2 linked regions of the Homo sapiens genome follow. The protein of the gene in region 1 purifies or fractionates together with the protein of each later gene. This does not show direct contact. Each region holds a gene or a part of one and is shown in the gene's direction. Other genes may lie near its edges.

Region 1 (3,850 bases):
GAAACACATCCTTTGCAGATGTCCAGGATCTAGTGGAGTCAGCACTGGCTGTCTTCATTTGTTCACAATCAGCTTCTTGCTTGACTCCCTGCATCTGGCTTCCTGTCCTCCATCCCCTGAAAACCACATGCTCTGAGGTTAATGAAAGCCTCTTTGGGGCTTAAATAATGGGACCTCTGCAGCATTTCACTCCCTTGTTCATGAAGTTCTCTTCTCCCTTGGCATTCATGACATCTGTTTCCTGATTCTCTTGCTTCTCTGGTTGTGCCTTCTCAATCTTCTTTGCAGACTCTGCTTCCTGGGCCTATCTCTTAAATATTGAGGTTCCTTGGGACTTGGTGATAGACCCTCCTTTCTCTCTTTACCCTCTCAGGGTAATGTCATCCACGCCCATGGCTTCAGGAACCATCTCTGCACCAACATCCACATTCATGTCTCCAGGCCAGACCTCTCTCTTAGGCTTCAGCGTATCTTTCCAACTGCCAACTGGACCTCTCCACTTGAATTACATCCCATAGGCACCTCAGATTCATCACATTAAACAGTGAACTCTAGCTGGGTGCTGTGGCTCATGCCTGCAACCCCCACGCTTTGGCAGGCCAAGGCAGGAGGATTAGTTGAGCCCAGGAGTTTGAGGCTACAGTGAGCTATGATCATAACACCACATTCCAGCCTGGACAACAGAGTAAGACCCTGTCTCTTAAAAAACAAAAACAAAACTGAAAAAACCTTAAAAGATAAACACCAAACTTATCACCCTCTCATCCAAACTGCTCTTCTTTGAGAGTTTCCAAAGAATCATCTGTTAATTCCTTCTTCTCCCCTAACTCTTCACATGTAAATACCCAGCCACCAAGTTCAGTTGATATCCCCCTGCAAAATTGATTTATCTTGGCCTGTCTTTGCTATTCTCCTAATCAAGGCAGTTTCTTAATTTTCCGTCCTTGCCCTTTAAACTATTTTCCACATAGCAGCCAAAAATGTACTTTTGTCACTCTATACTTAATAGCCCTCACCACTACCAAAGTTTTCCTTTGCTTTTTGGATAAATCCTTCATCCCCTAGCAGGTAAGCGTAAAGTCTAAACTCCTTAATAAGACCAACAAGGCATTGCATGATATATCTTTTGCCTACCTCTCCATCTTGTTTCTTAGCCCTCCCATCACAGTGTCTGATTCAGCCTCCTGATGCAAAAGGCACCATACTCTCTGTAACTCATCCTCAGCTTGAACGTTACTTTCTTTAGGAGTTACTAAAGTTACTTTCTTTAGGAGAAAGGTTGGCCTCCAACCTCTGGACCCACCCCTGCTCCAGATCTAGGTTAGGTAACCTTTGTACTCCTGGAGCAATTGGTGCTTCCTCATCATGGTCTTCACCACTTTACATTGCAGTAATCTATTTATTAGATTGTGGAATCCATGAAGGCTGAGCTGTGACTATTTGTCTTTGTGTCCCCAGGCCTAGCAGCAGTGTCAAGTGAATGCTGAATGAGGGAGTGAGGTGCCTTGAGAACTAAGCCATAAAGTATGGTGGGAATAACCAATACAGGGATAGCAGAAGGCAGTATGAGAAAGGAGAGTAAAGTCTGGCTCTGAGACCAAGGCCTTATAAGTGTCTGCTGTGATAAACAGTTCACTTGAACCACCACCTATAGGATCTTGGGGGCAAATCTCTAGAGCACAGTGGGATGGAAGAGCTAGGACCCCACGGGAGGAAGAGAATCTCAGATTCAGGCAGGGGTATGGCCTCAGCGGCTGCATGCCCAGTAAGTCTGGGAGGGGAACTGAAGCAGGAAGGGGAGGAGTGGGGGAGGAGCTATTGGTCCTTGGACATAGCCCAATCCCCGCCCCTGTGTGACAGTCTGGGAGAGCCCCTAGGCTTGGAGAGAGGTGGAGCCTGGCATCCAGCTACCCCAGCAGGACCCAGCAGACCACTCCCACTCTTCCTCCCAGCCTTTCCCTTCACCAGACAGAGGCTTCAGCTTGCCTCCCGCCTCCTGGTCCTTCCGCCAACCTTCAATCTGTCCTCCCTCCTGCTATGTTTTCCTGGTATTAAGTCTTCAGACTCCAGAACCCATTACAACTGTAGAGAGAACATCAGGATGCCAGTGTCTACATCAGCAGAGGATACTTTCAGGCATGCCCTTCACACTCTACCCAGGCCCACCCTTACACAAACATAAGGCACAGCAACTCAGCCCTTCTATCCCTCCCCAAATCTAGACTCGCTCCTGCATTCATTCATTCATTCATTCATTCATTCATTCACAGTCTTTAGAAAAAGGCTCATAATGCATCCAACAGCACAGACAATGGTGACCTGGTCCTATTCATTGCCTATTTTGGAGTAATCCAGCTGTTGTTCTGCCACCCTTCATGACCAAATCCCTGCCATGTATTGTCTACATCTGCTGTGTTAACTTCATCTCCCATTTACTCTTCAGTCACTCTGACGTGGCTTCTGCCCCTGCCACCCCACCACAGCCAAATCTAGTGGGCACTCTTCAGTCCGTTTCTTACTTCACCCCTTCTTTTTCTTGCACTGTTCTGTTGATTTCTTTGGTTTCACATTCTTTTGGTTTTCCTACCATTTCTCTGGGTTCTCTTTCTCAGAGTCACCTTTGCTGGCTCCCCTCTCTTGTGCCAGGCCCTTTTCTTATCACTGTCTGCCCTCTGTCCCTAGGTGGGCTCATGTCTTCTCATTGCTGAAAGTGCCATTTATATGCTAGTGATCCCAAATCAATAACCAGTCCAGACTTTTCTCTTGAGCTCCTGTATTCTGTTTCTTACTTGACAGCTCTACCTGGACATCAGAGAGACACATTGTACTTAGCATACATAGAACAGAATGCCCCAAATCAGCTCCACCTCAGCTTTCACTGTCTCTATTCATGGCCCATCACTTGCTAAAATGAGAAAGCTAAGTCATAATTGACATCCCTCTCACACCCAGTTCATCTTGATGTCCTTTGGATTTCTCTTTTATTATTTATTTTATTTTTATAGAGATGGGGTCTCATTATGTTGCCCAGACTGATCTCGAACTCCTGAGCTCAAGTGAACCTCCTTCCTCAGCCTCTCGAAGTGCTGGGATTACAGATGTGAGCCACCTTGCTCGGCCAATGAATATTTCTCAAATCAGTCCAGCTTTTTGCTTGTAGCTCAGATGATACCCTACATTATCTTACCCAAAGAACTTTGGTAGCTTCCTAACTGTTTTCTCTGATTCCACTCTGGCTTCTCTTTGTCTTCAATTCTCACAGCTTGCCAGAGTAGCTTTCTAATTTATTTTCACTTATTTATAAACCACATCATCCCCCCCTCCAACTTAGGATAAAATCACTTTTTTTTTTTGAGACAGAATCTCAACTTTGTCTCATGCCAGGCTAGAGTGCAGTGGCACGATTATGGCTCACTGCAGCCTCGACCTCCTGGGCTCAAGCAATCCTCCCACCTCAGCCTCCCAAGTAGCCTGGACTACAGGTGTGTGCCACCATGCCTAGATGATTTTTAATTTTTTTGTAGATATTGGTCTCATTATGTTGCCCAGGCTGATCTCCAATTCCTGGGCTCAAACGATCTTCCTGCTTTGGCCTCTGAAAGTGCTAGTATTACAGGTATGAGCCACTGCACCCAGCCAAAATCACATTCTTAATGGCGGTTATAAGGTCCTTCATGATCTCATCTCTACCTATCTTCCCAAACTCACCTCTTCCTTTTATTGACTTGGCTCCAACCACACAGTCCTTTCAGGTTCTCCATGAGCCTTCTGCCTAAGAACCTTTATCATGCTGTTTCTTCAGCCTAGAATGATTTCCCTTCCTGACTCCCTGTTGTTTCTCACCCTCACC
Region 2 (2,533 bases), on another chromosome or scaffold:
ATTGATAAAAAACTAAGCACACCAATCATGTATAAGAAAAGTAGATTTAACATTTTTTTCCCTAAACACTTAACCCAGAAGTTAACAATAATCTTGAAAATTCCTTTTAAATCCAGGCCCTTTAGGTGATGGCAGTTTGACTCAGGATGTCCAAGTCCAGTGTATTTTCAATAAAATTGACTTGACAGCTACTGCTCTGGGTGTAAGAGCAGTTGACTGTGAGGAAAAGTAAATGGTTCTACAGATTCTTTATGATCTACCTCCCACCAGAGGACTGCAGTACTCCCTTGTTATTTATATTTTCTGCCCCAATTTTTGCCTTCTCCACAAATTTTATACCTTTTGTAGCTGCCTACTCCAGATTACTTCACCTTTCCAGACTATCAGTTCTTCCACTTTTATTCTTCATAAAGAAAATTCCAATAACCTGTTTCACTTAGGTTTTTCTATTACTCTTCAAGCATGAATCCTAATTTCCCTGACTATATCTTACCTCTGATCTCCATAACTGATGGATTCCTATCCTAGACTATGTTACTCTAATATTACCCAAGATTTTCTCCAGCCTGTTTTTACTCTTACTTTGAAACAGCTGTTTAAAATGACTCGTAATCTGCTTAAATCTACATGCTTTTTGTGGTTCTCAATCCAGTTACCTACCTTCCAGATAATTCCCTCACTGTCCTGTCCTCTCCATTCCTCTGATGTTTAAGCCCTGTGAGCCACCTTTCCCCCATCCTTTGTGCATAGTTACCATTTTACTCTTTCTTGTTGCCCAGGCAGGAATGCAGTGGTGCCATCTTGGCTCACTGCAACCTCCACCTCCTAGGTTCAAGCGATTCTCCTGCCTCAGCCTCCTGAGTAGCTGGGACCACAAGCGTGCACCACCACGCCCGGCTAATTTTTGTATTTTTAGTAGAGATGGGGTTTCACCACGTTGGCCAGGCTGGTCTCGAACTCCTGACCTCAGATGATCCACCCTCCTTGGCCTCCCAAAGTGCTGGGATTGCAGGCGTGAGCCACCGCCTGGCCACCATTTTACTCTTTTTAGGTACAGTAATCTAATATCCAAAGTCTTGGACTCAGCTAAAGAGGGTATTTACCTTAAAAAAAAAAAAAAAAAGACTCCATCTTTTGATTCATAATTGTGGTGGGGGCGGGGAATCAAGACAACCTTAGTCACTTTGGTATTACCATAATTCTTGTCTTTTCAGGGTTGTCCTGTTCAGCTGCATAAAACATCATGTATTCTAGGTATTTCCTACCTTCACTTACATTTTTACTTGCCGATGTGCTGCCTTCATAAATGGGTATATTCCGCCACACATCTAGTAAGCCCCCAATGCAGTACACAATGTGTATCACTGATAAAACTCGCACTTCTGCCATGTCAGTATTATATTCAGTTGAGTGGTCTTTAGCATAGTGGCAGTCCTAGTCATCCTAACCTTTTAGTTAAGGTAAAATTACATATGTTTATAGAACTCATATAGACAAGCTAGTTTTTAAAATCTTCCTTTTAACCAGTTTAGGATGATCTAGGATAGCTAAGTTACCTACATGGTGACTGTTCGGTCTAATTCAGAAACAGAAGTACTAAAAGAATACTAAAAAGTTTTTACCCATTATCTCTATCCCTGTTTTCTTTTTGCAATTCTCAGCTGCAGGGAGCAAGAAAATACACAGCAGATAGGAAATGTTTGTTTGCATCCTGGCTTTCTCAACCGCACTTTACGTCCTTGAATATTCTAGATATTTACTCCTTCAAGAAGTCAGGAGTATATCCAGGCCTACCTATCATCCTTGCCATCCCCATTAACCCTCATTTTTCAGTATGTGTTTTACATTTATGGTTATTTTTCAGTCTATAGTATCTGTTCACTCATTGCTCTATCACATCTGAGTTTCTCCGTCTTTCTTTCCACTAGATTGTAAGCTCCTTAAGGGCAAGGTCGGCATATAAGCAAAGTTCTGTAAACACCGTGAAGGTACCATGAGTTCTATGGGTACTCAATAAATGCTTGTGATAATGATGCAATTTCTCAGATGAACTGATTGTAGTGACTACCTCTAAAAGCCTTCAATCTACAGTTTTTAAATTTGTCTCATTGCATCTGAGTTTTAGAAAGCCTTCGATAGAAAGGGAAGATACTTCATAGCTTGCCAGATGAATGCCCATTTCCTTATTTCCTTTTCCTCACTTTTGATATTTTGCCCAGTGTCTGGTCTGGATATCTGACATCCATAAGGGTATTGAAATGGATCCTTGTGTGGTTTTCAGATACCAGTTATATATATTATGAAGCAGAGGTAACCTAATATTGTCTAACACTATTGATACAGTTTATATTTTGGAAATACTGTATGGATGATTTATTGAAATAACTTATAATAAGATATTTTACAAGGAAATATCCAAACCACAAAGTTAAGTGATTGCTGTTTTGGTCAGTCAGCTATAGTATGAAATTATTAGAATGCTTTGGTTTATTTATGTATGTGAAGTTATTTTATCCCTATGTGCTTCAGTTTC

The links.
Region 2: the proteins of TRIM3 (region 1) and KPNA4 purify together in Homo sapiens (affinity purification with western blotting; 2 studies listed by BioGRID, with this or other methods). This does not show direct contact.

What each region holds. Positions count from the first base shown.
Region 1 is NC_000011.10:6,467,272-6,471,121, reverse strand, and holds part of TRIM3 (tripartite motif-containing protein 3), read left to right. Parts: intron 1-3,598; exon of another isoform or gene 3,599-3,616; intron 3,617-3,850.
Region 2 is NC_000003.12:160,494,507-160,497,039, reverse strand, and holds the end of KPNA4 (importin subunit alpha-3), read left to right. Parts: 3' UTR 1-2,033; downstream 2,034-2,533. UniProt on the Homo sapiens protein: Functions in nuclear protein import as an adapter protein for nuclear receptor KPNB1. Binds specifically and directly to substrates containing either a simple or bipartite NLS motif.